Regions from separate parts of the Homo sapiens genome. Here regions 1, 2 and 4 are each linked to region 3. Evidence: fine-mapped expression QTL. A gene starts in region 3. Each other region holds a variant in brackets. All regions are shown on one strand. Distances are from middle to middle.

What was found. PIP is the estimated chance that this variant, and not a neighbour inherited with it, causes the effect.
Region 1: its variant is the best candidate, but not a certain one, in a credible set for the expression of PDK3 in T cells (TOPMed, PIP 0.59).
Region 2: its variant is the best candidate, but not a certain one, in a credible set for the expression of PDK3 in subcutaneous fat (GTEx, PIP 0.90).
Region 4: its variant is the best candidate, but not a certain one, in a credible set for the expression of PDK3 in whole blood (TOPMed, PIP 0.75).

What each region holds. Positions count from the first base shown.
Region 1 is chrX:24,619,945-24,627,904 of GRCh38, reverse strand. All of the region lies in intron 1 of PCYT1B (phosphate cytidylyltransferase 1B, choline), which reads left to right. Among named protein-coding and RNA genes, the nearest start is that of PCYT1B, 23 kb to the left of the region's middle. The variant A/G (reference allele first, on the strand shown) is at 3,835.
Region 2 is chrX:24,481,970-24,489,929 of GRCh38, reverse strand. All of the region lies in intron 1 of PDK3 (pyruvate dehydrogenase kinase 3), which reads right to left. Among named protein-coding and RNA genes, the nearest start is that of PDK3, 21 kb to the right of the region's middle. The variant C/T (reference allele first, on the strand shown) is at 4,408.
Region 3 is chrX:24,461,002-24,468,961 of GRCh38, reverse strand. PDK3 (pyruvate dehydrogenase kinase 3) reads right to left here and starts at 3,676. Exons shown (of 11, transcript NM_005391.5): 1 at 3,401-3,676. The coding sequence starts at 3,506. RefSeq lists a silencer at 3,616-3,935.
Region 4 is chrX:24,536,348-24,544,307 of GRCh38, reverse strand. It overlaps a transcript of PDK3 not described here. Among named protein-coding and RNA genes, the nearest start is that of PDK3, 75 kb to the right of the region's middle. The variant T/A (reference allele first, on the strand shown) is at 4,254.

The DNA of each region.
Region 1 (7,960 bases), 160 kb before region 3:
TCCAGTTCTTCAGGCCAGTAGCTTTGGAATTATCCTGATTCCTCTCATTCTTTCACACCCTACATCCAATCTGTTTCAAGTTTTATGGATCCAAAATCTATCCAGAATCTGACCACTTCTTACCACCTCCGCTGCGATCACCCTGACCCCTGCCTCTGTCTTCTTTTGCCTGATTATTACACCAGACACCTCAGTGGTTTTCTTGTTTCTACCTTTGACCTCTTACAGTTTATTCTCAACACATTAGCCAGATGGTCTTGTTAAAGCTAAGTCAGATCATTATCATGCCTTGTTCAAAACGCTCTGATGCCCAGCACTTTGGAAGGCTGAAGCAGGTAGATCACCTGAGGTCAGGCGTTCGAGACCAGCATGGCGAAACCCTGTCTCTACTTAAAATACAAAAATTAGGCAGGTGTGGTGGCACACGCCTGTAGTCCCAGCTAGTTGGGAGGCTGAGGCAGGAGAATCTCTTGAACCCAGGAGGCGGAGGTTGTAGTGAGCCGAGATCGCGCCACTGCACTCCACCCTGGGCAACAGAGTGAGACTCCCTCTCAAAAACGAAACAAAACGAAACGCTCTGATGGCTCCCATCTCCCTAGAGTGAAAGCCAGTCTTTACAGTGTCCTAAAAAGCTCACACGACTGGGTGCCTCTCATCTCCTTTCTTCTGGTCTCACCTCTGGCTACATCTTTTCTTTTTTGCTCGCTTCCTCCAAGCATACTGGCCTTCTAGTTATTCCTGGAAGAAGCCAGGCATGTTCATGCCTCATGGCCTTGGCCCTTACTGTTTTCTCTGCCAGGAATGCTCTTTCTCCACATGGCTCACTTGATCCTTTATATATTTACACATACATCAACTTCTCTGACTATCCTATTTACAGTGATACCCCCAACACTCCCTATTCCCTTTCCTTGCCTTATTTTTTTCTATAACACTTAATCACCCTTTAACTAAAATACTACATGTTTTATGTTCTTTTTTGTTGCTTGTTTATTATTTTTAAGTGTTATGAGGGCAAAATTTTTTGTTTTGTTTTGTTCCCTGTTGTATCCTCAGAAGCTAGAACAGTGCCTGGCACACAGCAAGGACTCAAAAAGTGTTTGTCTGATGTTAGAAAAATGAATTACGGGTAGATACCATGAAAGTAATTTAAAAATTTTTTAAAGCTCAAATGAGTTTTAAATATTCCATATACCTGCAAATCATATCATTTAACAGTTAATTTCTGGATAATAGTTTTTATTTTTCAAAATACTCCTCTTTTCTTAATATAGACCTCCCTCCCCCATCCCTGCTACATTTGGGAGACCTGAGCCTTGATTAAATTTTCTGCATCTCTGAATTTAAAGGAGAGGAGATATTTCTTTAAATTTATTTTTGCATTATGAACATTGCATGAATGCATTCTCATTTTAAAAATAAAACAAAATGACAGACATATATGGAATAAACAATGAAATCTCTTCATCTCTTCTCTCAAAATATTATCTCCTTCCCAAGAGGTAACCCCAATTAACAATTCAATGTGTATCATTCAAGTCCAGTGCTGTCCAGTAGAACTTTCTGTGATGATAGAAATGTTCTATATCTGCATTGCCCAGTATAGTACCCAGTAGTCACATGGGTTATTGAGCACCTGAAATGTGGCTAATGTGAATGACAAACTACTTTTAATTTTATTTAATTTTAATTAATTATAATTTGAATTTAAATAGCCCCATGTGACTAATGGCTACCATATTAGCACAGTTCTAAACTATTTCTTTTTCTTTTCTTTTTTCTGTTTTTTTGAGACAGAGTTTCACTCTTGTCACCCAGGCTGGAGTGCAGTGGCGTGATCTCAGCTCACTGCAACCTCCGCCTCCCAAGTTCAAGCAATTCTCCTGCCTCAGCCTTCCAAGTAGCTGGGATTACAGGTGTGTGCCATCAGACCCGGCTAATTTTTGTATTTTTAGTAGAAATAGGGTTTCACCATGTTGGCCAGGCTGGTCTTGAACTCCTGACCTCAGGCGATCCACCTGCCTTGGCCTCCCAAAGTGCTGGGATTACAGGCATGAGCCACCGCGCCTGTCCCTAAACTATTTCTACACAATTACCTCTCTCTTTTCTTCTTTTTCTCTCTCTTCCCCCTTCTCTCTCTTTTTACTATAAATGACATCATACTAGATAGCATGTATACATACATATTATACATATTGCTTTGTGACTTGCTTTTTGCATTCAACAAAATGTCTTAGATATAATTCCCTGTCAGTACATACGTATCTGTCTTGCTGTTTTCAATGGTGCCTGTTACTTATAACATGTACATTCCATACATAACTAAATGAAAAAAATGGATATTTCTTGGTGCTGAACCACATACTGGGCCTCTTTTTTCTTCTCTCCAGTGACATTTATTGGTGATGACTTTGCACCAGCTGCCTGATTTAAGAGTCTACATAATCAGTGACACAGTCTAAGAATCCAGTGATTCGTGTGTGTTGGGCCCATGGTTAACTATATTATCTATTTTTTTCTGTCCTCTCTATCTTCAAAAGACAAAATATTCTGACTCCACAATAAATAAGGTTTTAAAAATATGTTCAGAAACAAGTAAATATAAACCTAACAGTATGAGGCTGCTGGATTAGATTTTGTGATGTCTTTTTGTAATTCTGAATTTGTGGTTCTAAAGCTGATGAGTTTCACAGCAAAAGGCCTACCTGGAAGAAGTAGATTCTTTCTGAAGTCCTGTTCTTATCTTTTTTTGCATATCCTGATTAAAATGTTCTGTCTTTGTAAAATTCTTTTCTACCAGAGACATTCTTGAGATGGTTATAACTTTAGTTACTCTGGGTAATTCACTTTTCAATTGATTTCTATGCTTCTAACATACCTCATCAGCATTTTCTAGCTAATGTTTGAGCCTGACAAACTGTTATAGACACGGTATTAACCAAGGCTCTGTCAAGACACAGATGGCTCACTCTAAAGGTGAAATTGAAAGAGAGTTTAATAAAGGTAATACTTACAAAGGTATGGGCAGGGTTTAAGGAAACCTCAAGGAATAGTATAGTATCCTTGGCCTAGAAACAATGGGGGATTGCCATCCCCCAGGCTGGTAGGGGCAAGGGGTGAGTGTGGTTACCAGAACCTCACACAGACAGCTCTATAAAGAGGACCCCCTCACAGAAGCTGTGAATTTTGGTAAAAGGACAGAACCAACACACTGCTTCCTAGCAGAGAGGAAGCCAGGGAGACAAATACCCTGAGCTCACTCTTGTCCTGACCTCCACTGTTTTGCACGCTTCCCAACCAACTGGAAGCAGGAGGCAGAGATCCCATTGGTGCAGTCCATTGGGGAAGCCATACAGAAAAGAGTAGAGGAAAAGCATAGAGAAGGGTAGAAAGAGAGTGGATTCTGGAGAGGCAAAAGGGAAGATATTTATTACCCACACATTCTTTTAGTTAATCCTCACAACAGCTTATCCTCCTTTCATAAACAAGGATACTAAGGCTTGAGAGGTTAAGAACCAGCAATTTGCTAAAAATCAAATGTAAAAATAGGAAAGGGATATTAAATAATGGAGGTAGGATTTGAACTCAGGCCTGTCTGACGGGATTGCCCCACTGGAGTTAAGAATAGCTTAGCTTGGCCGGGCGCGGTGGCTCATGCCTGTAATCCCAGCACTTTGGGAGGCCAAGGCGGGCGGATCACGAGGTCAGGAGATCAAGACCATCCTGGTTAACACAGTGAAACCCTGTCTCTACTAAAAATACAAAAAATTAGCCGGGTGTGGTGGCGGGCTCCTGTAGTCCCAGCTACTTGGGAGGCTGAGGCAGGAGAATGGC[A/G]TGAACCCGGGAAGTGGAGCTTGCAGTGAGCAGATTGCGCCACTGCACTCCAGCCTGGGCGACAGAGCGAGACTCTGTCTCAAAAAAAAAAAAAAAAAAAAAAGTATAGCTTAGCTTAAACAAGCAACTCTGCAGTTGGCCTATCACCATCAGCAGTACTGTGCTAAGTTCTGATTGGTTGATTAGCTTGTTGTCTGATTGGTCCAGTTGTCAGTCAGCGATGTACATTGCATAAGTGCAGGTTCTAGCAACCATTTTTTTGCACTTAAGTAATATTTGCATTGTCCATTGTCCAGTACCTAATAGCTTTTGTTTTAAGTAAATATTTGACAATGTCCAACTGAAGAGATTCTATACATGAAATGCTCAACATATAATGTCTTCTTTAAAAGCCTGATGAAATGTGGCTTTGGTATGATTCTATGGCATAGTTTATATAACCAGAACTTATGTGACAAATGGGTAACATATTCACCTTGTAATGACTGAGTATTTTGAAATCTTCAATTAGGTAGAAAGAAGTTTTATTGCAACCTAGCTCCAAGTCTGTGGTCTGGCAAGGCCCTTGCATATGTGAGGTCCAGGGCACTGGGCCAGGGCTTCTTAACCCTTTATGATCCTTGCTGTCTTCTGCTAAACACGTTGTGCACATGTACCCTAGAATTTAAAGTTATATATATATATATATATATATATATATATATATGTAAATCTCATGTGCCAACCAAACCCCAAATTTGGAATATGGCTCTCTAGAAGGGCATAGTCTGTCTTCTGTGATCTTCACAAGTTCAGAAGCTTAGTTTCTATGATTTTCATGCTCAAAAGAGTAGTGGTTTTCCCCAAATCTGACGTTATTGAAAACTGAACATGAACATGAACATGCCCTTTCAAACGAATACCTTCTCCCATTCTAAAACGGTCATTCTTCACTTTAGAAGATTGCTGCTGCAAAGCCAATTCTGTTCCTGCCTTTCTTATCTCTCTCCTCCATTTCTCTATCCTCCAAACCCCTAGCATCATATTAAACATGTATCATGTGCTAATAAACACTACAAAATGTGATCTGGCTGATTTAAAGTCTAACCTGAGGCTTGCAAATAACTACAAGCAAGTCATTTGACCTACTTCATTAAGTCTGGCCAAAAATATGGTTACATGCTTTTATTTCTTCAGTTAATTGTTTGAGTTACCCCTTCTCTATCAGGAAATCATGTATCCCCTTTTCGAGGTTTTTCCATCCCTATAGTCTAAAAATCCTGAGGGTTTCCTCAGCTCACAGGGAGCCAAAAAGGTAACTGAGTTTGAGGGATCTACCACTGCTGTTGCTTCTTGCTGTCACTTGGTGTCACCTTGAAGACTGGTTCAGTGAAGATAATATCTACCTCACAGAGGTGTTGTACAAATTAAATGAGCAAATACATTTAAAGTGCTTAGTATATCGATGGATACATGGCACTAAGTAGGTACTCAAAGATTTAGCTATTACCTTATGTTATCAGGCCTTAGTTTTATGTAGGGTCTACACCAGAGGATCCCTGGAAGCATCTCAGCTTTGGCAAATGGTGAAGTTAGTTCAGTTCCTGCCCCTCCCAGAAGCCTCTATCTTACTCACATTGTCCTGAAGTTGATCTGCCTCTAGTATATGGAAGAGACAGAACCTAAGGAGCATAGAATTTTTTATAAAGCAAATGATTTGTTCTGGCTCAGAGAAGGAGTTTTTTTTTAATTGTAATCTGGTGTGTTTGGACTGAAAAAACATTGTCTCAGGTCACCGGGCTGGTTGGTAGTAGCTGGGCCTTAACCAAAGTCTTCCTGAATGCAGAGCTTGATCAACTCAAGAAGTACCCTGCTGTGCTTTAGAAAGCAATGTTCTGGACAGCAAGGCTGTGGCTCATTTATTTTTTCATTCTCCCCATTCTGAGCACATTGCTTTATACATAACAAGAAATAGCTCTTCTCCATATCAACTGCTGTTAAAGATAGTCACCTGTGCACACATGCAAACACAAACACATTCGCACATTTAGGAATTCTCTCTGCCTTCCATCTCTTTGTTTCTCCTTCTTTCCTACTTCTAGGCCATAATAATTAAGAACAAAATGCACGGTGCATATAAACCTTTTCTTCCCCTTTGAGTAACTATTGTTGCTTTACAACGTTCCCTATCTCTGTTTTAATTACCAGATTTCACACCATCAAGAACACACCATTCTTGGAAAATGGCAACACCTTATCTCCTCTTTAATAAACTTTGTGAGTAGCACATACAAGATCTCCAAATAGTAATTTATTTTAGGTCATGTGAAAAAGGTTCATTGCCCACATATATTAAAAGGTAATGAATCATTAATGTAAGCTAATCCCACTTGCCAATCCATTTATCCATTTGGGTTGTGTGCTAAAAGTCCATTCATAAGTCAATTTGCAGCCAGGTGTGGTGGTTCATACCTGTAGTCCCAGCTACTTGGGAGGCTGAGGCAGGAGAATTACTTGAACCCAGGAGACGGATGTGGCAGTGAGGTGAGATCGCACCACTGCACTCCAACCTGGGAGAAAGAGTGAGACTCCATCTCAAAATAAATAAATAAATAAAAAATAAATAAAAATGAGTCAATTTGCTTGTTTCTGTGGGTAACTATATTATCTATTATTATATCATATTATATATAATAGTGAATAATAATAGCAGTAATAATAGCTACAGTTTATTAAGTACCAGGTATGTTACACATATTATCTCTGCTTTTCACAACAGCCTTGCAAAATGAATAGCCCATTTTATAGATGAAACTGAGGTTCAAATAAGTTAAGGAACTTGCTTTTAAGCACACAAAGTCAAAAATATTTCCTGCCTCAAGTATAGCTCCTCCTGAAGTGGTAGTGGTGGGTCACTCATGACTTTCCTCACCACATCTGTTGGGCCCCAGGGTGGGCGCCTGACCGAACGCCAGCCAATCCTGGTTAAGGCCTGATTTGAAAAGATGAACTTGGCCAATCAGATTCTCCCTTAGGAATTTGAATTGGGAAACATGGAAAGAGTCAATAAGTTGGTAGGAGTCTAGGGCTGAAAGGCACAATGGAAAGTTGTTAAATGAGTGTTGTGAAGAGAGGCTGAGGAGGCCATGATGGGCCGGCCTATTAGAGCTGAAGCTGTGGGGCAGTGGAAAGCAAGCAGCGGCTTTAATGCAGTGGAAGGAAATGGAGTCAGTGGGGGTGGGACAGAAAGGATCATGTGCAGAGAGCAGCCAAGTTGGTGCAGAGCACCTTCTCTGGGGCCACATTCTGCCCCTTTCCTGCTTTTCCACAGTTTCAGTTCCAGGGTAGTCTTAAAAGAAATCCTCCATCCTTTGAGCTAATGTTAGTGAGTGTCTGTTAGTGAGTGTCAGTTCCTTTCAACCAGAAGAGCCAAATTAAAGTACATGGCTAGTAAGTGCTGGAGAGGGGATCTGAACCCGGGGTTTGTGGATACAGAGTTTTTGTTCTTGTCACTGCACCCCTTTGCTACATTACAAATGCCACTGTGGTCTACCACAGCCTATGAGGTCGCCATAATGTATCTGAAAAAGAACGAATAGTGAACCCAAGTTTCCTGAATCCTTGTCCCAAGTCTTGGTTTGCTTCCAGAGCCCTGGAGGAGAAGGTGAGGGCTAAGAAAATCTCAGATAACTGGGAGGCCTCCAGACAACATTGAGCTTCTAGGGTGGAAGGGACTGCAATGGGGAGAGGGGATGGGGACAGGGGAGGGATCGGTTCTCGTCAGTGCAGAGAATGGGGGCTCCCCAAGGGCAGGGATTATTGGTCTTATCCCTACTTCTATCCCCAGATTCCAAGATAGTGCCTGCCACTTATTTGAATGAGTGAGTGAATGGATAAATAAATGGCAGAAGTGAGTCATAGCCCCTGTCCAAATGTATGGATCATTCTTCAGTCTAGTGTCCCCAGGTTAAGGAACACATCTTAACCTGTCTCCATCTCTAAGAAACAATTGATACAGCACAGTGAATAATGTTTACCATGACTGATCCACTTTAGCTTTAAAAATCACAAAGATGATGTAGTGGTGACTGCAATCACGGCACAGTTCAAAGACTACAAATGGACAACTCTGGATTGCATTTGCCTT
Region 2 (7,960 bases), 21 kb before region 3:
TGGTCTAAGAGAACCAAATTTCAGGAAGCATTTTCTTCAAGCTTCCTTGGATTATCAGCCTGTTATAAAACTCATGTGGAAAGAAACTTTTATCTGTCTCTCTATCCCCCATAGCACATATTATAGTGCCTCGCCTATGGTAGCTTCTCAATGATTTTTTCAAATAATAGATAATGCTTTCAGAAGTTTGTTTTTTTCTTTGTTTGTTGTTGATTTCTTTTTTTTTCTTTTTTTTTTTTTTTTTTGAGACAGAGTCCCACTCTGTTGCCCAGGCTGAAGTGCAGTGGTGTGATCTCGGCTCACTGCAACCTACGCCTCCTGGGTTCAAACGATTCTCCTGCCTCAGCCTCCTGAGTAGCTGGGATTACAGGTGCCCATCACCACGCCCAGCTAATTTTTGTATTTTTAGTAGAGATGAGGTTTCACCATGTTGGACTAGCTGGTCTCCAACTCCTGACCTTAAGTGACCTGCCCGCCTCAGCCTCCCAAAGTGCTGGGATGACAGGCATGAGCCACCACACTCAGTCCAGAAGTTCGTATTTTTTAAAAAGAGTAGTTGGAAAATTTCAGGTTTTGTCTCTTACATTCTACATTAGGTTTAGGGACAAATTCTTTGTACTCAGACACCTTAATTATATATCAGCTTAAATAGGAGGATAAGTCTTTTTTAGTTAATTAGTTAGCCTAAAAATAAGTATGAAATGCCTGATTTTTATAACCTTTCTGTGCTTTCTTCACGTACATTGAAAGTATCTTTCCTATGTATTAATGCCGGATACTCAGTTTAAATGAAAAGGTTCTAACAACCATTTTTTTTTAAATAATAAACTTACCAAGAAAAACATTTTGGTTTTAAATGAATGTCCTCGCCAGAGGGTTCTGTTTTGATAAGTCTTCTGGTATATTGTGTATTTTCCAGTTCTGCTTTCCAATTATTTGACTTCATTTTTTCCCTACTTACTTGGCTTCTCTACATTCCTTAATTTTGACTTTCTATTTTTATTCTGCATTTCTCAATATACTTCATCTTATTCAAATTTACCAATTAAGTTTTTCCCTGGTATCAGTTCAAAGATGACAAAGGGAGCAGGTGAGGGGGCTTGGAAAACTCTGACTTAGTGGATGCAAACAGGTCATTAGACTCAAATACACTCATGTGCATTTCTTCTGTTTTTCTCCTAAGTTTGACGATCCTTTCATTCTCCTTTGTTTCTGGTTTGTTTGTTTGTTTTTGAGACAGAGTCTCTCTCTGTTGCCCAGGCTGGAGTGCAGTGGCGCAATCTTGGCTCACCAAGTGGCGGCAACCTCCACCTCCTGAGTTCAAGCGATTCTCCTGCCTCAGCCTCCTGAGTAGCTGGGATTACAGGCATGCACCACCACACCCGGCTAATTTTTGTATTTTTAGTAGAGACGGGGTTTCACCATGTTGGCCAGGTTGGTCTCGAACTCCTGACCTCAGATGATCCGCCTGCCTCAGCTTCCCAAAGTTCTAGGATTACAGGCGTGAGCCACTGCGCCTGGCCTCTGTTTGTTTTTTATACTTTGTCCTTTTATTGGGAAGCTGGAGACAATTACTATATTTGCAAAAGGTATGATTTGCTTTGTCTAGAAAGGTTCCATATAGCTTCACATTCACCAAGACCTAGGGTGAATAGACACAGAAATATAAATGACTTTCAATGTAATGCAGGGAGCCTTCCCTATGGTGGGACCAGGAGGTAGCCAAGAGCGTTTAGCTAGCCACCTGAGAGCAGGAGCTCACAGACATATTTCTTTATACCTGGTTTACATAGTGGCTGATAACCCTGGCTTCGTTTTAATCCTCTTTTCGACTAATTTACAGGCGGCAGAAAAAATAATTATTTCTTCAATTAATCAAGTCACCTGATAATAAGTGTCTTTTTTTTTTTTTTTTTTTTTTTTTTGAGATGGAGTTTTGCTCTTGTTGCCCAGGCTGGAGTGCAATGGCACAATCTTGGCTCACTGCCACCTCCGCCTCCTAGGTTCAAGTGATTGATAGTAAGTACCTTTTAATTAAAGCAGAGGCTGAGGACATATTTTGTACTGTCTTCAATCAACAGAGACCATGCCTCCTAAAATGTAGAGTCTCCTCTGTCTGGATTACTTGAAGGCTTTCTTTGTCCATTGTTCAGCTTTAGCAGTTGGTGGGGGTTGGGGGGTGGTTTGGGAGTGGCAATAATGAGATAAAGAGCAATACATGGAAAAATTACCCGCAAGGCACCAAAAAACCCCAACAGAATGATCCAGCTCATTCTGATAATTTTTATTAATATCATCAACTAAATGCTTTCGATTAATATCACCAACTAAATGTCTGAGTTGGCAATGTACTTTTCCCATTAGCCATGTTTAAATTGGTAAAATATAACTGAGAACATATTATTTTAAGCTTTTTAAAAAAAATTTTCAACTTTTATTTCAGATACAGGGGGTACATGCGCAGGTTTGTTCCATGTGTATGTTGCACCTAGGCAGTGTGCACAGTACCCAATAGGTAGTTTTTCAACCCGCGCCCACTTCCCCCTCCGTCTAGTAGTTTACAGTGTCTGTTGTCCCCATGTTTATGTCCATGTGTGCAGGTGAGCTCTTCAACTTCTTTTCTCTAGTTGTAGTTATAAGATTTCAATCTGTTGAAAACACTGAATTTTAGAATAAGTCATTAATTTTTTGATTTACTAGGGTTAAACAATGATTAATTGAATAGTCCTTCAGAAGAAACAATCTGACATGTGAATGGAGACCTACCAAATGGTTGTGAATGTCCTTCAAAGAATCACTTTTTTAAAAACTTAGTTTCTACTTTTAAAATGTTTGTTTTGTTTCATGAGCAGTTTCTCACTGCCTTAAGAGCTTAAGAGTTTTCCTTTGTTCAAGAACATTTATTTCTGAATTTAAGAAGGATCAAAATAGGCTGCAGATTTGGAATCTGCCAAACTTGGGGCTGCCTCCACTCTAGGCCAGACCATGTTTTGGTTATTAATAACAGTGAGCCAATTATGCCTGTAATCCCAGCACTTTGGGAGGCTGAGGCAAGAGGACTGCTTGAGTCCAAGAGTTCAAGACCAGCCCAGGCAACATAGGGAGACCCAGTCTCCACAAAAAAATAAAAAATCATCTGGGCATGGTGGTGCGTGACTATAGTTCCAGCTACTTAGGAGACTGAGGCAGGAGGATCGCTTGAGCCAGGAGGTCGAGGCTGCAGTGAGCTGTGATTGTGCCACTGCACTCCAGCCCAGGTGACAGAGTGACACCCCATTTCAAAAAAACAAAAACAAAAAGAGTGAGTCAGAACTTCAGAGACAAAGAGCCAAATACTGGGGATTTCACGCACACTTTATTCCCTATCAAATTCAGTGCCCCAAAACATCTAGATATTACACGACTTCTTTCAGTCCAAAGTCCATATTATGATACTCACAGATGCTGTGAGTCAGGAATTTAGACAGCACGCAGAAGGGATGGCTTATCTGGGCTTCAGCTGGGAAAACCCGAAGGCTGCAGGGTGACTAGATCTTGGGTCTGGAAACATCCGAGGGCCCCTTCACTCCTAAGTCTGATGCTTGGGACAGACAACTGCACAACTAGGACTGCCCATCTGAGCAGCTTGGGGTGGCCTCTTCCTGGGCTCCCTCACATCACGGCAGCTTCGGGCTAGTTGGATCCTTCCACCACTTCAGTGAAAAGACAGCAGCCGCATGGCCTTTTATGACCCAGGCTCAGAAGTCACACAGCTGGCCTAGTCTGCCACAATCAATTAGGCTAAGTAGCCAGGGCCTGCCCAGACTCCAGAAGGAAATTTCGACTCCTGCTCCTGACAGAGGGGTGCCAAGGTCACACTGTAGAAAAGTATCCTCATGGCCATCTTTGGAAAATGCGATCTTCTCTGGGATGTTAATGGGGGGTTGTAGATGATTTATTGCTAAATTATATTTTAAAGCACTCTTTTATGGCCAGTCAGATTTTGTCTCTTTTGGGGGTTAATGTCCATTTTTCTGTCTTTGTTAGTCTCTTTCTCGCTGTAGGCTTCCCTCAGACGTGTGGTGATCTTTGGTTGTTCAGTCAGGTTTGGGAAGGAAGCAGGCTAAAGACTGGGAGCCCTGTGGGGCTCTTGGCGGAGAGAGCTCCCTGAATTCCTGATTACACTGGGGCTTTTCAGTGGGCGCTAATACCACACCAGCTTCCCTGATTCTCCTGAAATAGTTCCATCAGTGTCTTTAGAGAAGAACCCCCTTTTGTCCTTTACCTTGCCGATAGGGATAACTGCCTGCTGTTAATGTTCTAGAGGTCAGAACAGAGGGTGGCCCTTCTGTCTGCAGACTTTTAGTTCATTCTCCTGTTGGCACCCAGCCAGCCTTCCTGCCACTCCTGCCCGCTACTGGTCTGCTG[C/T]GTTGCTGAGGTAGGAGTCCCCTATCCCCCCACCCCGGGCTCTGCTGCACTATGCTCAGCACCCTCCTCTGCTACAGTGCCTTCTGAGAGTGTTCTAGACCTGAGAACTGTCCAATATAGGAACTGGCAGCCATTACAAGAAATTTATTTATTTATTTTTTTGTTTTACTTTTTTGAGATGGAGTCTTGCTCTGTCGCCCAGGCTGGAGTGCAGAGGCACGATCCCAGCTCACTGCAACCTCCGCCTCCCAGGTTCAAGAGATTCTCCTATTTCAGCCTCCCGAGTAGCTGGGATTACAGATGTGCACCACCGCGCCTGGCTAATTTTTGTATTTTTAGTAGACACAGGGTTTCACCATGTTGGCCAGGCTGGTCTCGAACTGCTGACCTCAGGTGATCCACCAGCCTGAGCCTCTCAAAGTGCTGGGATTACAGGTGTGAGCCATAGCGCCTGGCCCCATTAAGGGAAATTTAGATGTTCCATTTTATTTTTATATCAATGATAAATTCCCCAAGGGTAATAACTGTATCATGGTTATTAGGAGAATACCCTTAAGCTGAGGACATACATACTTAAGTATCTAGGGGTAAAGAGGCATGATGTCTGCAATTTATTCTCAAATGGTTCAGCAAAAAAGCATAAAGCATGTGTATGTGAGAGAGAGAGAGAGAGAGAGGAATAGGGATGGATGGAGAGGGAAAAATAAAGCAAATACGGCAAAGTAACTCATAAAAATCTTCCTATAACTAGAACTATTCTATTCTTTAAAAAAATACAAAAATCTCATACAAAATATGCTACTATATGCAGAGCTTCCTAATGGGGTCTGACACCCGTGGTACCCTTCATGTAATGATTTTTGTTCTTCTGATAGGAAAAGGGGGTACGAAGGTGATTGGGATAGAGTTCTTAATTAAGGTAGTAGTCCCTTGATCCCCTCTCTTTAGAAATCCTGTTTGTTTGCTCTTTTGAAACATATATCTGCACAGACTAGTGAGAAAACTGCTGCTCTGTATAACAAAGCCAAAGCAAGCTGTGAATGGATTTCTCTGTGGGCCCAGAAGTTGTGCCCTGTGCTTGGGCAATGCCCTCTGCCACTGCCTCAGTCACTGAGTTCTATGAGTTCTATGTCCTGTATCATGATTCCTCAAAAGATTGAAGAGTCCATTAGTACAATACCTGGTACATTGTAGGTATTCAATAAATATTTCCTGGCTGGGCATGGTGGCTCACACCTGTAATCCCAGTGGGAAGCCAAGGTGGGAGGATCACTTGAGCTCAGATGTTCGAGATCAGCCTGGGCAACATGGCGAAACCCCATCTCTACTAAAAATACAAACAAATTAGCCAGCTATGGTGGCACGTGCCTGTAGTCCCAGCTACTTGGGAGGCTGAGGCATGAAAATCGCTTGAACCTGGGAGGTGGAGGTTGCAGTGAGCCGAGATCGTGCCACTGCACTCCAGCCTGGGCGACACAGTGAGACTTTGCCTCAACAACAACAAAAAATTTCCTGGCTGGGTGCGGTGGCTCACACCTGTAATCCCAGTGGTAGGCCGGGGCGGGAGGATCACTTGAGCTCAGGAGTTCGAGACCAGCCTGGGCCATATGGTGAAACCCCGTCTCTACAAAAAATATACAAATTAGCCGGATGTGGCAGTGTGCACCTGTAGTCCCAGGTACTCGGAGGCTGAGAGGTGCAAGGATCGCTTGAGCCCAGGAGGTCAAGGCTGCAGAGAGCCAAGATTGCGCCACTGCACTCCAGCCTAGGTGACAGAGTGAGAGCCTGTGTCACATACACACACACAAAAAAACCTCGGATCGCAACTGAAAATTAAAACACCCAGTAAGTTTAGTTACAAACTTAACATAGCAAATAAAATTCAGAGGTTCAAGATAACATTTGCAGGTAACGGTAAATCCCTCTTACAGGCCAACTTCATTCTATATATTTGTTTAAGGGTATTCAATCCTTAAAATCATGAGAAGAGCCAAAAGGCAGGTAGGAAGACAATACAGTGGCAGTAACAGTCAATATGGTGTGTCAGGCCAGAGAGTGGAAGAGACATGATGTGTTCAGAACAGATGTCACAAATAAAGCTGTGACGAGCTAGAGCATGTGAGTAACAAGCACTATGCAGCCAAAGCCGCCATGCATCCATATCAACCTAATTCCAGAAGGGAGTTTAGAATCTAGTCCTAACGGTAAATTGGTGAGTTACAGGATGCCCTGTTGTCATGGAAGCAGGAATAGCTAATGGTCACACTGTACTCATATTTGAGGTTAACTGAGGCAAATCATTTAGTTAGCCATCACAGTGATCAAAGGGAATCCAAAGCAAGTCACTCTCAAAGCACAAAAGAGCTGAAAGTGCTATGTTTCTTGGAAAATGATCAGTTTTGTACAGCTGAGACCTTCAGCCAATAAACTTGAAGATAATTAACATTCAAGGTTAAGAGCTCCCTACCCAGCTTTTATTCTTAGCAGAAAGCTGACTTCATCAAGGAAATGCTGTGTCACTAACTTCTCATAGTAAATTCATAACCAACATCTACCAAGCACCTACCATGTGTTATGCACTATGCCATACGTTCTCAATCTCATCAATGCAACCATCCTATGATTAGCCACTAGCATTTCTATTTTGTAGATAAGGACACTGAAGTGTAGTGGGATTAAGTGATTTGCCCAGGCTCACACTGCTGGTAGGCATCAGAAATTAAGACTGGAGTACAAGTCTGTATATACTGCTTCTCATATTCCCAGAGATGATAATGCAGACTAACAAGTAGTGGTTTTCAGAAGTAGAATTATTTCATTGTAAGTAAGTGGAGTAGGTATCAATCTGATAGTTCTGAAATAATAAAACTAGATAAGCATTAGATTATACCATTTCCTGATTGTGTAACAGAATAAATTTAGACAAAACCTCAGCATTGCTAATAGAGACTATATTTGCTATAAAGAATTGCACTGGGGACAATGGTATACTATGTTAAACTGAAAAGAGCGTAGGTTTAAAAGCTCAATCTTGCTTGTAATCCCAGCACTTTGAGAGGCCAAGGCGGGCAGATTACTTGAGGTCAGGAGTTCGAGACCAGCTTGGACAACATGGTGAAACCCCATTTCTACTAAAAATACAAAAAATTAGCCAGGCGTGGTGATGGGTGCCTGTTATCCCAGATACTTGGGAGGCTAAGGCAGGAGAATCACTTGAACCTGGAGGTGGAGGTTGCAGTGAGCCAAGATCACACCACGCACTCCAGCCTGGACGACAGAGGAACACTCTGTCTCCAAAAAATAAACAAACAAACAAACCTCACTCTACCTGAATTTTAACCATGGCTTTGCCCCTAACTTTGCTTAGGTAAGAGACTTAAACTATCTAAGCTTTAGACTCTTCATCCAAGAAATGGAAACACTTAATGTGGACGCTGTGAGAATTACAGCTAACCACTATTGTGTTTAGCAGAGAGTGGCACACAAATGTAAGTTCCCTTGGCCTCATAAAAAGAATAATTTCTGGTTCCCTTTGGAAGAGGTGGCCAAGATG
Region 3 (7,960 bases):
AAAAAGGGGAGGCCAGTGGGCACAAGTGGGAAGCAGGCTTTTCTGTGTCCTTTTGAACCCTCTGAATTTGGAACCATGTGACTGTAATCTTAGGCCCAAAAGAAAAATCTCATTTTAAAAAATGCCACCCTTTGGAATGTACTATTGCCATAATAAATTAAAAATCCATTTAGAACACTTGTTATTCTTGCTATATTTGCTAACTGTGTGGCAGGCTATATTTCAAGTCAAGATGGAGTTCAAGAAACTTTCATTATTTTAAAAAGCATAGAGAAAAATACTGCACATAGATGAAAGGGGGCCAGCAGATCAGACAGAAGATCATCTGATTAATGGTGCTTAACCCTGGATATGCTTTAGAATGACAGGGGGATCTCCTAAAAATACCAGTGCTCTGCTCTCCACCCCCAGCACCCCCAGACCATTTACAACAAAAATTCAGAGTATGAGGCCCTGGCCTGAAAACCACTCAAGTAAACACTTCCAAACAGTGATTCAACAGAAGTCCAGGGGACATTTTGCTCCCCCAGGGGACATTTGGCAATGACTGGAGACATGTTTGGTTGTCACGACTTGGAGTGGGAGGTGCTCATGGCATCTAGTGGGTAGAGGCCAGGGATGTAGCTCAACTTCCCACAGTGCACAAGACAGCTCCTACCAAAATTACCTGGCCTGAAATGGCAAGAGTGCTGAGGCTCAGGAACCCCTGCTTTAAAATAAAAGCACAGCTTCTGAAGTAACAACAAGTTTTAGCCTCCACTTTTGAACATAGCAAATAATCTCCTTATTTACTGATGTGCAGTACATCCACATAAGAAAGCCTATTTATCAAGGTTGTAACAAATTGTGTATATCCTGTGTATCTCCTTTCTCTGGTCCCTGTCTAGTTACTCTAGTCAAAATGTACGTCCCATTTGTAAAGTACCCATGGAGAAAGGCATCAAGTTCATAAACTAGCAGCCTGTGGGCCAACTTGATCCATCCATCTATTTTGTTTATGCCAAAGTTCTCTTGAAATATACTGAATTGGTGCCAATCAGCTGCCCCTTTGGAGCTAGCTATATACCAGGAATTTATCACGGTCCTCAACTCGTTGGCTTCATTCACTTATCCACTGCCCACTACCTGGTGCTTTAAGTGCCTGAGTTGGCCCTCTCCTGCAGTTTTCTCTAATCATACAGGGGCATGAAGCCTCTTCACTCCTCCTCTCTCCTCACCTTAAAAATATCCCACACCCATTCTGAATTCTCCAACTCCCACATCAATTGCCAAAATAGAACTGCTATCAAGAGACAGAACTAAGAGAAAAGTAGAAGTAGAGATGGCCTTTTTGCAACAACTCCCGTCTTTTAGTTGTCCTGTCATTAAAGATAGGCTGATTAGCACCTGATTCATCTCTGGGTGTTACAAACTAGCCTTGTCACTTCTAGCAAATTCCACTACAACTATATCTAGCACTTCTGTGCGCTTCCTTATAAGGAAAACCTTAAATTATTATGCTTCTCTCATGACCTTAGTGAATCCCTCCACCCCTCCCAAAATAGGTCAGAAGACTTTTATAGGAAATATCTATCAAAAGATTTGGTAGTTTTCTTTTAGAAAGTTCATGCCTCTTCCTTTGAAATCACAATCGTATAGTGGTGAGCTGTGCTTTTAAAGATCGCCTGATACAATCTACTCATTTTATTAATGAGGAAAATGAACCCCAAGTGAGGTTTGGTCACTTAGTCAAGGCCACATTCTGAGCTAGTGGCAGAGCCAGAATTAGAACATTTGTTTCCAGATACTGGCCTCACAGGTTTTCCATGATAACACTATCCTCCACTGTGGTTTTCCTACTCACATAACATCCTTACCAAAATACCTATTAACACGGGTAGACACTAGCTGCTATGGAAATCAACTAACCAAAATTTTGGCTGGCTATTGGAGCTATCACTTAAACTTTGAGGGTGGAAAGAACTGGGAGTTTCTGGATTCCTTTTGTTCCTTTTATTGTGAATTATCCTGTTTCAGTTTACACTAATGAAAGGCTGATACCTTCAGAATCTTCCCTAAACCATAAAGATGGAAAACTTGCCTATATTTATAGCAATAGCAACATTTTCTAAACTCTAAAGTCAGAAACTGCCTCAAACCTCTACAATTCTCGAGATAGTAAGTAAAACTACCAATAGCTTTTGGGAGTGAAGTTTGAAGATGCAGAAATCAACGTGTCATTGAACTTTGACTTTCATCATCATTCTCTGGCAAATTGGCTTCTAAAATTTTAATTTGGTCTCAACTTTAACCTATTCCTCTCTTCCTATCCTAGCTTTTAAAAAAAAAAAAGTATGGACATCACTTTTTGCATATCAGGTCTTCCTCAAATGTTCTACCTACTCTGCACTTTAGTTTTTATGCCCAACTGACACTATCACTGACACCCTTGACATTTACATAAAATTCATTAAATGAACAGACACCCTACGATTTCCCCTGGAGAGCTTAGAACATCTTTGCTGCTGGATTTGATTTTCCTCCAGGGATGCTGAGTTCCATTCTGATACCTCAATGCATGCGTTTTACTTTTAGGTGTTTCACAACCAGCTCCTTCGTTTTCTGGGGAAACATGATTCAGTTAACAGAAGGTGGTGGAATCTATTCCCATCTCAGCTAGGCCTGAGGCAGGCTGGGAACCCGAATCTTCTTTGGTCCCACCTCAATCCGTGAAAGCCGCCCACCAGCCCACCGGACAGGGAGAATGTGGGTGGGACACCAATGGAGAAGAGAAACGAAAGGTGCTGGCACTAAAGCCAGAGTTGTATTAGACCCTGCTCTGATGCTAGGATCCCAGACGTCCGCTCTTCCCAAGCATCTAAGGCGTCTGCAGGCCAGGCCTCTAACTGATTTAACATAACCTGATGAAGACAACAGTTCGAGTCCTGCCACTCCAGCCACACAGCAACACCTTAGAGCAGAAAAGGAACAAAATGCCATTGCATAATTTATTCAACCTCAAGGTATTTCTAAACAGTTCTTACCCAACCAAAAAAAAAAAATTCTAAAAATAAAAACATTAAAAAGCCACCCACATCTCGTTCTGAAGTTTTAAGGGCTGTGAGGTTTGTGTCAAGCAGATTTGAAGCTAACGACCGCAGGTTTGGGGAGTCTCGCCTGCGATGAGGGTCCTGCAATGAGACGCCGTTTCTGTGTCTCCGGGTAAGTCCCAGGCTGGGTGCGAGGGGGCCAGGCCCTGCCCCTCCGCGCCCCGAAATCCGAGCCCCAGGAGAGCCCCCCGGATATTCCCTAGCCCCGCCTGCGGTTCCCACAGACTTTACCCCGAAGCTGCGGAGATCCGGGGTGGCAGCCCGAATGGCGGCGGCCCCGGGCCCATGGGGACCCTTGGCCCCGTACTCACCGAAGTCCAGGAATTGTTTGATGGAGAGCGGCGACGGCGAAAAGCGCGAGTAGCGCTCGATCTGCTTGGGCACCGGCTGCTTCAGCAGCCACCGGAACAGCCGCATCCTCGCCCGGGCGGCGCACAGACCCGCCTAGACGCCCGGGTGGCCGCAAGGGCTGGCGCAGCCAAGCCGCACGGATAGGGCACGTTTGCGAAGCGCGCACCCCGGCCTCGATCTCGGCCTCGGCGCCGCCGGTGCAGCCGCCGCAGCAGCAGCAGCAGCTCCAGGACAGCGGCGGGCCGCCCGCGGCTTCCCTAGGCTCCGCCTCGCTGGGCGGAGTCGGTTGCTGCACGTACGCGGCGCGCGAGGGGAGGCGAGGAGCGCGAGGGGCACGCGGCCGCGCGCGCCCTCCACTGATTGGCCGCCGCTGCCTCTGTGACGTTTGTGTTTTGTCCGGGCGCGGCGCCAGAGACCCCCCTCCCTGGCTCATGGGACTCAGCCCAGCCCAGCAAGTGCAGCCGCTTTCAGCTCCGCCTCTGGCTGGGTTCTCCGCTGCCGAAAGGTAGCCGAGGTGCCCGCGGACCGGGAAGAGGCCAGGAGCCCGGAATCCGATCCTCCGCGCTGCTCAAGACCCTTCTCAACCGCAGGCGCCTTTTCCGGGAGGAGGACTTGCCGTTCGCTGCATCCTGACACTTAGATTTTACAGCCTAACTAGACTGACTCTGTTTCGTGGCCCAGCCCCACCCCCACCTCCCTGCCTGACTCCCAAGAGAACACCTTTGGAACACCTTTGGACTGGATTGTTAGTTCGCTGATTCTCTTTTTCGTGGTTCCTTTCCCCTCCTTCCCGCACAAGATTAAGTGACTGATTGCATTTCATGTCCCCCCACCACCACCGTTGGACGGGATCCATTGTGAGGTCAAGGGTCAATAACACCCCCTACCTCCCCAATGCCAGTGGACAGGATAATTGCAAGGTCACTGACTCTGTTTCATACCCCCCCACCCCACTACTACCATTGGAAAGGATCAAATGTAAGGTCACTGGCACTTTCTTTCATACCCCTTCTCTACACCACCACCATAGGACAGCCCCCTTCACGCTTCACCACCACTTTTGGACAGGAGTCTATGCTTACACAGTGTTGGGTATTCTTTATCTCAAGTGAACTTGAGAGCCTGGCATGGTGACATGCACCTATAGTCCCAACGACCCTGCAGGCGGAGGTGGGAGGATCACGTGAGCCCAAAAGTTCAAGATCTGCCTAGGCAACATACCCAGACCCCCCTCTCAAAAAAAAAAAAAAGTGAACTTGAACTCAGGGCTCAGTATATGAAATTGTTATTTCCTATTATGAGTGAATAAAGTACAGCTTACTTTAGCCATTTCCACCAAACCTTGGCTTTTTTTTTTTTTTTGGCAATATGTAAACATAAACATATGTAACTAAAAGGACAGGAAGAATGTTCTTTAAGGAAAGGTACAAATGTGACTGGAAGCCACTCCTTGGGTCTCTGATTGGACTAGTTTTCTCACTGAATGAGATTATTGGTGGGTAGCTATTTAGCTTTTGTGCCTTCAGTGGACGTTTATGCAGCCAATTCTTTGCTTAATAAAATAGTTGCATCTCTACTCTGAATGTAAAGAAAAGTAACATACACAGTAAAAGACCTCGGCCAGGTGCGGTGGCTCACGCCTGTAATCCCAGCACTTTGGGAGGCCGAGGCGGGCGGATCACGAGGTCAGGAAACCGAGACCATCCTGGCTAACGTGGTGAAACCCCAGCTCTACTAAAAGTACGAAAAATTAGCCGGGCGTGGTGGCGGGCCCCTGTAGCCCCAGCTACTCAGGAGGCTGGGGCAGGAGAATGGCATGAACCTGGGAGGCGGAGCTTGCAGTGAGCCGAGATCGTGCCACTGCACTCCAGCCTGGGCGACAGAGCAAGACTCCATCTCAAAAAAAAAGACATCCAGTGGTCTTCTAGACTTTTGGATTTTCAAGAACATCTTGGTCATCTTCATCTTGGTAGAAGTATGTAGACTACCATGTCTTTTCCATTCAAATTAAATCAAAGCATTAAAAAAGACATACTAACAACTTATTTAACCAGGAGCTTTACCAGAAGAGCTAAGTAATCCAGTTGGTGTGCATGGGCAGACAAAGAGAAGACCAGTGGCCTGTGGTTCCTAAAGTGACTTTCAGGTGCTACCTGGAAGTGGAGCGATAATTGGTGGCAGTTGTCAGTGAGCAGGAAGAAGCTGGATGTTTGTGGAGAGGGAGATTTTCTCAGCCTAAGCAACAAAGCGCTGATCTTTCTGAGCTTGCAAATCGCTTGTTTCACTTCTTCCTTTTCCACTGCACAAAATGCTACTTAAAATCCATTCTGTTGATTTGATTATTTAAACTTTCATGTGCCTAATTTTATTTCTGCTTTTCCAAAAGGTGACAAAGTCCTAGAAGTTGGGAACAATATGAAAGAGCCCTATATAATGTAAAATGTGCTTAGACAAGGCTAAGGTCACCTAGCCTGTCTGCGTCACGCTTATTTTTATGTCAGATTAAGATACCTGATTTATCTCCCTGGCATTTGTGACAGTCAAATGAAATAAACCACATGTAATATAAATACAAGGTACTGTACCTCCTGTGTACAGCAATGCATATATTTTTACCTAATACTTTCATGATAACTTGCAGAGGCCAGAAGTGACACCAGTGTGTTGATAAATAGATCTTGATGAACTTTTTTCAACTCCTTGTACACACCAAGGTCTAGTGCAGACCCCACTCCCAGTGGCTTTCAAAAGTGAAATCCCTGGACCTGCGGCAGCAGCATCACCTGAGAACTTGTTAGAAATGCAAACTCCTGGGGCGTCTAATCCTAGCACTTTGGGAGGCAGAGTCGGGCAGGTTGCTTGAGCTCAGGAGTTGGAGACCAGCCTGGGCAACATGGCAAAACTCCGTCTCTACTAAAAATACAAAAATATTAGCAGGGCAAGGTGGTGCGCTCCTATAGTCCCAGTTACTTGGGGGGCTGAGATGGGCGGATAGCTTGAGCTCAGGAAGTGGAGGCTGCAGTGAGCCAAGATTGCACCACAGCACACCAGCCTGGGTGACAAAGTGAGACCCAGTCTCAAAAAAAAAAAAAAAAAAAAAAAAGAGGCCGGGCGCGGTGGCTCACGCGTGTAATCCCAGCACTTTGGGAGTCTGAGGTGGGTGGATCACGAGGTCAGGAGATCGAGACCAGCCTGGCTAACATGGTGAAACCGCATCTCTACTAAAAATACAAAAATTAGCTGGGCGTAGTGGCGCACACCTGTAATTCCAGCTACTCGGGAGGCTGAGGCAGGAGAATCACTTGAACCTGGGAGGCGGGGGTTGCAGTGAGCTGAGATTGCGCCATTGCACTCCAGCCTGGGCCACAGAGCAAGACTCTGTCTCAAAAAAAAAAAAGATTAGGCCAGGTGCGGTAGCTCTTGCCTGTAATCCCAGCACTTTGGGAGGCTGAGGCGGGTGGATCACCTGAGGTCGGGAGTTGGAGACCAGCCTGACCAAAATGGAGAAACCCCATCTCTACTAAAAATACAAAATTAGCAGGGCATAGTGACACATGCCTGTAATCCCAGCTACTCGGGAGGCTGAGGCAGGAGAATTGCTTGAACCTGGGAGGTGGAGGTTACAGTGAGCCGAGATTGCACCATTGCACTCCAGGCTGGGCAACAAGAGCGAAACTCCGTCTTAAAAAAAGAAAAAGAAAAAGAAAAGAAATGCAAACTCTTGGGCCCCACTGCAGCCCTACTGAAGCAGATCTGCGTTTTAGCAAGCAATAAAGGTCTTAAAGATATGGCCACAAATTCTTTGATATTCCTCAAGAGATGGAGCTTAATTCCTTTCCACTTGAATGTGGGTTAGACTTAGCTCATGCTTCTAACAAAGAAGAGTGTGGCCAGAAGTGATGAGATCTCACTTCAGAGACTGGGGTCCTACAAAATGCCTGACCAGTACTCCTCAAAACTATCAAGGGCATTCAAAACAAGGAAAGCCTGAGAAACTGTCACTTAGCCAAGAAGAGCCTAAGGAGATATTACAACTAAATATAATGTACTATCCTGGTTGGGATTCTGGAACAGAAAAAAAGGATATTAGTAATGACAAATGTTTGAGGTGATGGATATGCTAATCATCCTGATTTGACCACTCTACATTGTATGTATCAAAATGTCACTATATACCCCATAAATAAGTACAATTATTATGTGTCAATTAAAAAATTTTTAAAGGATATTAGGATAGGGAGAGATTTGTTAAAGGATACAAAATTATAGCTATACAAGAGGAATAAGTTCTAGTGTTCTATAGCACTGTAGGGTGACTATAGTTAAAAACAATGTATTATATAGTTTCAAATAGTTAGAAGGAGAATATTGAAGTTCCCAACACAAGGAAATGGTAAATGTTTGAGATGATGAATATGCTAATTACCCTGATCTGATCACTGTATAACCTCATGAATATGTACAATTATTATTTCTCATTTAAAAATATAACTAGAAATTTAAAAAATAGGCCGGGCGCG
Region 4 (7,960 bases), 75 kb before region 3:
TAGGATGACGACTAGTGGGAATGGGGAAATGCAAAGAGGATCTGTCTCCCAATGGGACCCGGCCACCCCCAGGGCAGAGGATTCAACAGTGTCTATGGAAGGCACTCACAGACAACATGTTCCAAGGAGGCTTCGTGTCACTCCTTATTCCCCCAAATCCAAACAGAATGAAAACCAAAAACACCCTCCACCACTACAACCCATCAAGAGCTAGCCTTAGGGTTCAAGTGCTAAGGTTATCCTTCAAACATGTCTCGCTCAAAAGAGAAGGAGTCAAGGAGGATTTACCCACACTCTTCTTGGACAGGTAAAACTGGTACCATGCAAAGATAAATAATAAGCAGAAGGGGTCATCATGATACTTGTGCATCAAGATAAAAGCAAAACAATACAAGAAAAGGAATGAAAGATGCAAAGGATAGATAAATACACTCTAGAAAAAGAATGAGCTCATAAACCACTAAAACTGTAGACAAAATTGTTCAGCACTGGAAGAAATACGCAATCAAAGAGGACAACATAATGAGCTCAGGAAAGAAAGAGATAAAAAATGAAACTAGGCTGGGCGCGGTGGCTCACACCTATAATCCAAGAACTTTGGGAGGCTGAGACTGGTGGATCACTTGAGGTCGGGAGTTTGAGACCAGCCTGGGCAACATGGTGAAACCCTGTCTCTACTAAAATACAAAAATTAGCCAGGCATGGTGGCATAAGCCTGTAGTCCCAGCTACTTAGGAGGCTGAGGCAGAAGAATTGCTTGAACCCGGGAGGCGGAGGTTGCAGTGAGCAGAGATCACACCACTGCACTCCAGCCTGGGTGACAGAGTGAGACACTATCTTGAAAAAAATAAAATAAAATAAAATAAAATAAATAAAACTGTAACAGAAGTGGAAGCCACATTACAAGGAACAAGCCCTAGAATCAACAGTACAGAAAACTGAGTCAGTCAGTGAAATGGAGGATAAGACTTGAGAAAAAAATCATACAGCATGAATGAAGAAAGATGAGATGAGTGCCATCTAAGGAAAGATAACTGTGAAGGACAGATGACAGAGAGCCAATATAAAAATGAAGTTTTCAAGAAGAGAACAGACTAAACTGATACAAAACGCAGTGAGGCTTGAAATGACCATATCTAATGCTCACTGCATTCCAGAAAAAGGCAACAGACAACAGTCAATCCTGAGATATACTCCAACGAAGTTACTAAATTTCAAGGATAAACAAAGAATTCAAGTATCCAGGGCAAACAATCAGGTCATCTACAAAAGGGGAAGAAAAATCCATCAGGACTCAGACCTGTCAGCACCACCAGATATGGACAACCATAAAGTAGCAATAACATCCTGTCTCCAGAGAATTCAAGGAAAAAGGCTGTGATCCAAGAATCCGATAGCCAGCCAAGTTATTGTTCGTAAGTAACAGCAACAGGAATACATTTGTAAATATGCAAGAAAACCCAACCGAAGCTGTAATCCAGTCTGCAAAAAAGATAAAAACATCAGCTCTCAAATGTGGAGTCTTTGTATGAAAGGGCTGGCAGTAAGCACTGAATTCATTCAGACACAGAATTAAGTCTAAATAACTCTAGTAATTACCTACAGCTATCCACTTTAAGTTGCCTGTCATTTTTGGTAAAAGCTGCCAAATCCATCTGATTATCTCCTCTAACTATGCCAAAATGGAAACACACAAAAGAAACCCTCTCCTGAACGGAATTAACTTGCTCTACAGATAATTTGGGGTTTAGAGCTTACCCTTTGAGGAATAGTATACTGAAGAAATTCCTCAAAAGAGATAATACAAATCACCTGGCGTACTGTTCCAAGCACCCAAGTGCTTGCTTTGGCCCTTCCATTGACTTACCATGCCACCTTGGCAAACTCCTTAATTGCTTTGGGATTCATACAAAAAACCGATATACCTGTGTAGTCCAGCTCATGGCATTGTAAGGATCAAATGGCATGCTGTATGCAAAAGGTCTTTGGAATCTATACACAAGGCTGTAAAACTATGTCACACTGTTTGGATGGAAAGAATTCTGTATTCAGGAGCCAAAATCAGATATTCAGAGACAAAAAAAGGAAGAGATGGCTCCTGCGGATCTATCCCTCCACTTCCTTGCATTTCTCTACATTTTAAAGTCATCTCTTAGCACTATAAAAAGGAAATTCAGCACTTTCACAGCTCCTGACTTGAACTTCCATATTTTTAATTTAGAGACAAGGATGGTTTAAGAACTTAGAAAGATGTTGCCCTACCACCCAAGGAAAATGTCTGACAGTTTTCTATCTTTGATTCACCTACTATTTATGAATATTATTCATTATTTTAATATTATTTATTAACATTGTTTATTAAGCACCTACTATGTGTCAGGCACTATTTTAAATAGACACAGTCCCCACTTAAAATAAAATAGAGTAAATGAAAGAGCAGTACAGAGGAATGGGAAAGAATTTAGCTGAAAAAGGGTCCATGTCTATTTGTGTTACAACCTATATGGGGGAAATCTGACCATTTGCTTATAGGCAAACCCAGTAAACAGCCAGATTCTCTGCCTAAATTAAAAGAATCATGTACAGTTGACAAACAGGATAAATGAATACTTGGGTAAAGAGGCTAGTAAGCCAGAAGAACACAGATGTTCCTGAAACTCTTCTTGCAGTTGCTTTAGGGTTAAAGATAAATTCTTAATGAAGAAAACAAAGACAGGAGAAGCAAGGTTGTACTGGGGTCAGATGGATGTGAGTAAGCCAAAAAGCGTGCTAGTAAAGAACTACCGATTAAGTCATGAAGACACTGAAATCAATCTTTACTTTTGAAAAACACTTGTAAAGGGAAGAATGTGATGAGATTTTTCTACACCATATTATCCATATTCGGCCCCTTACATGGTACTGCTTGTGAGGATGTGGTGATCGATGGGCCTTCCTCAAACAAGAGAAACGCTGTCAGAGTCAGGCAGTAGGCAGCACCCCCTAAACTGCTGCCTCCTCTCTCCTACAGTGTATCACACTTGAAAGCATAAAGGAGTATCGTTGGAAATTGAGGCCTAGGAAGATATTATCTCATGTTTATAAGGAAGCTAGGGTCGGCTGGGCGCAGTGGCTCGAACCTGTAATCCCAGCACTATGGGAGGCTGAGGTGGGTAGGTCACTTGAGGTCAGGAGTTCGAGACCAGCCTGGCCAACATGGTGAAACCCCGTCTCTACAAAAAAATACAAAAACTAGCTGGGCGTGGTGGTGCATGCCTGTAATCCCAGCTATTCGGGAGGCTGAGGCACAAGAATTGCTTGAACCTGGGAGGCGGAGGTTGCAGTGAGCCGAGATGGTGCCACTGCACTCCAGCCTAGGGGACAGAGTGAAACTGTGTCTCAAAAAAAAAAAAAAAAAAAAAAAAAAAAAAAAAAAAAAGGAAGCTAGGGTCTTTGCATGTAAAGGACCATTTTTTTTTTTTTTTACATCTTTTATGCCACACAAAAATAATCATATGGAACAGCCCCATCCCCAAGACACTGACTCGGTCCTCAGACCTATGGGCTTCCTATGACCCACCTCTCACCAGTCTCTCAGAAGTACATCAGTATTTCTTTTACCTGATTGATTACATATGAGTTCTCTGATGAGATCCTTCTAAGGATGGAAGAGATGAGCTCTTTCTAAAGATGAACGGAACTACCCTGAGCTCAGGTAATATAACGAAATAAAAGAAAACAAGATCCAGTGGAACTAAGAGAAACAGGAATGCAATCAAGCCACATGCAGCTGGTCAAAGCACACCTCATCTCAGGGAGAAATCCCCCACGGTGGTGGGAGAGGAGCTAATTGCATCGGTACTATCATATGACTAAAGCAGGATGAATGGTTTACAAGTCAGAACTTCTACATCAGTGGACTCAACACTTACAAATTGGACTGAAACATTTATATGGACATTAAAACGGGGCAGAAATCAAAGTAGATGATATATATGGAAAATTACCATGAAGAGAAGCACATCCTGTGGAGCTGTATATAGGATGCTGGTTTCAATCCGGATTCTTCGGTCACTTCTATTCCTAAGGGTAAATATAACATCATTCCTCTTTCCTTATCCCAAATCGTCTGCTAATTCCCACTTCCAACTTTTAGCAAAAAGGATTGTGAAAATCAGACTGAGGTGACAATTCTAAAACTAAGATGAATGAAAATGAAAATTATTAAGACCTGGAGCATTTTTCAAAAATAAACTAGAGAGGCCTTTTCCCTC[T/A]GATAGTCTATTTTACAACTAGTAAAGCGCATCATACAGAAACTTCCAATTCCTTAGAAGACTACAAAGGAATAAAATATGACACAGGTACAGTATTAGATGGATGGAAGTTTGACAGAAGCATAAAAACTCCACTTCACACTCTGTACAAATTTGGTATTGACCAGGAGGCAGTTTTTCACTTAAGATCTTTGAAACCAAGCAGTTGGGTGAAAAATTCTAAGATAACATTTCGAATGCTTTAATCAACAGACATATACAAATGAATTTTAAAATAAAACCAAGGCATCAATGAAGAAGATCTAACATGAAAGTCACCACATCTCACAATGAGAATCCGATCAGATGGAAGAAGGCAAAAGTCTAAATCATAGAGTGGCGGAGGGAGGCACGGGAGAGACGGAGGGCTCTGGGACTAAATCATCAGGGCATGGCCACCTGATGTCTTCCACTTTCAGGGTCCCAGGGCCCTAGGTGGAGGTTTGGGACAAATATGGTATTTGGTCACAAGGAGCAACAGTACGATCTGCTGTATCTGGAATGGGAAAGGCGCACAGAATCCTGGAAGGACTGAAGACATCAGATGCTATGATAACAAGATGGAGAGTACGAGGGCACAAGAGCTGTAAGGAGGCTCTGTGCTCTTCGGTGACAGGCATCAATCACACCACAGCAAGATGTCATTAAAAAGTTACTACTTTAGTGGAAGATCTGGAGTAGCTACAGGAAAAACTCTTTGGGAAAGTCCAGGTGGTAGAGAGAAAATACACATTTAAGCACTAGGAATAACTGTGATGCCACGCTCAGAGCAGGTGGGAGAAAGCAGTTCTCTCTGTTTGACTTGCAGAAGGCAATCTTTCTTCACAGAGAGGACCACAGCATTCAGTCCTCTAGAAAGTTCTATTAGTCTTGATCTTGTCTCTACAAAGAAAATAATGAGAATATCCATAGTGAGTTTGTGAGTACAACCTCCTCTGTTTTGACCAGGACTTTTAGAGTATTTCATTATAGTGATAATTCAAAAACCCTTGCCATATCTCAGAATTATTTTCTACAATTACTACAGAAATAGAATGACCATTTAATTACTTATATATACTTTAAAACGGTTCTTTACTGTCAGTGAAAACTCTGGTTAGAAATATAGAGTGACTGCTAAAAACTATGAGGTTTCTTTTTGGGGTGATGAAAATATGCTAAAGTTAGTGGGAAGGGCTGCACAACTCTGTGAATATACTAAAAAATATGGAATTGTATACTTTTATTTATTTATTTATTATTGAGATGGAGTCTCGCTCTGTCGCCCAGGCTGGAGTGCAGTGGCGTGATCTTGGCTCACTGCTGCCTATGCCTCCTGGGTTTGTCTCGTGCCTCAGCCTCCCAAGTAGCTGGGATTACAGGCACCCGCCACCACCGCCCGGCTAATTTTTGTATTTTTAATAGAGACGGGGTTTTGCCATGTTGTCCAGGCTGGTCTTGAACTTCTGACCTCAAGTGATCCACCCGCCATGGCCTCCCAAAGTGCTGGGATTACAGGCGTGAGCTACTGTGCCCGGCCAGAATTATATATTTGTAAAGGGTGAATTTTATGTTGTGTGAATTAATCTCAATAAAACTCTCACTTAGAAACTGTTTTGAAAATAAATTTTCTTAGAACCTCTCATGTATAAATACCTAGTGAATTTACCATACTTACTAAAGTCTTTCCCCAAATCTCTACCGATTATTTGTATAGTTTAACAATTTTAACTGTCAGGCTAAGCATTTTAAAATTTTAAGAACTGCTTTCTGCTTAAATTTGTTCACCTAATAATATATTAGAAGTTAAGACTAATAATCAGCATACAACCTTCAGTTTAAAATTTAAACCTTAGTTTAAACCTTAGTTTAAAAATTGCCTTTAAAATAATATTCAATTAAAGCCACCTTTTTACAACCAAACCTTTTTCTAAAGATGGCTTCTGCACTACTCAAATTACTCCACATATCAGAGCAATAGTTTGAGCAGTTTGAATCAACTGGTCACATCGATGCTCAACATTCTATTTGACTTACATACAGACTGAAAATGGAATCAACAGAAATTGATATGATCCAGGTATTTCAAGCTGATTTAGCTTAAACTTGGCTGGGAATGGTGAGAGTAAGTATGTTTGTTTCCACAAACCAAACTTCTCTAAACTTCATCATTTGAGATGAGTGGCCAGTCCAGCAATATTGCGTAGCAGTCCACCATGACACTTCCATAGAAAAAAATAAACATCCATATGGATATCATTTATAACACTTGTCAGAGAAGACCAACGCTACTAAATGGTACAATACTGCAAAGCTATATAAACTGTATTTGTGTACAAATATCTTTCTGTTGCATTGTGTTAAAGATGTTAAAAATCAAGGTTTTCAGGATAATAAGAAATATATACAATTAAAATATATTGGGGAGAAACATTACAATGTTAAAATAGAATAAAATATCAATATGAACTTATGATTTAAAATATATTTTAAATATAGCTATATTTTATAGCTCTGTCTGTCAAGGAAAAGGGCCTAAAAAAGGTATAACAAGCATCCCCAATTATCAGATTAGCATCTCTAATACTGATTAAAAAGAAACAGGGCTGGGTGCAGTGGCTTATGCCTGTAATCCCAGCACTTTGGGAGGCCAAGGCAGGCAGATCACCTGAGGTCAGGAGTTCGAGACCAGCCTGGCCAACATGGCGAAACCCCAACTCTACTAAAAATACAAAAAAAAAAAAAAAAAAAAAATAGCCAGGCGTGGTGGCTCATGCCTGTAGTCCCAGCTACTTGGGAGGCTGAGACATGAGAATCGCTTGAACCCAGGAGGTAGAGCTGCAGTGAGCTGAGATTGCGCCACTGCACTCCAACCTGGGTGACAGAGTGAGACTCTGTCTCAAAAAAAAAAAAAAAAAAGAAAAGAAAAGAAACAAGACTCCTTGAGGGAAACAGTTGATTCTAGGACACAGGCACAGAAGGTATAAGATGAATCTAGGATATCATCTTGGGCAAGAAAAGCTTTCAAAGATTAATGAGTTTTGGCAATAGAACACTAAGGATCCAGCTGGAAATAGCTCTCATTGGCCAAAGGTATGTCAATTCAAGCATCAAAAAGGAAAATGACTGTTACATGCAATAACATGGATGAATCTCACATAAAGCCAGACACAAAAAGAGTATAGACTATGTGTTCCTTGTAAATTCAAGAAGAGAACCTATGGTGATAGAGTTAGAAAAGCAATTATATGGTGGAGGAGGGAGGGACAACTGTTTGACTAGAAAGGAGTCTTTGTGGGTAGAGGAAATATAGATGTAAAAAAAAAAGCTGTAAACTTAAGATGTGTGCACTTTACTATTACTATATGTTATGCTTCAATAAAATAAGTGCCAATTAAAACATATCAAAGTAACAAAATCTACTATAACACTAAAAAAGACAAAGCCATAAACTCATTTGTTAACCATTTAAGGTGGCTTTTAACATATTTCTTACCTGGAAAATTGGTAACTTGAAGGGAATTTAATTGTCCCTTTAAATTTAAAAGGAAGGAGTTAAACAGTTACCAGAGGAACTGTACTTCAAAATACCTAAATGGCCTTATTTGATGAGGAAGAGCTTTACTTTATAGGAGAATAATTGACAAAGGAATGATTTAAAAAAAAAACATTCTTTTATAAACCCAAAT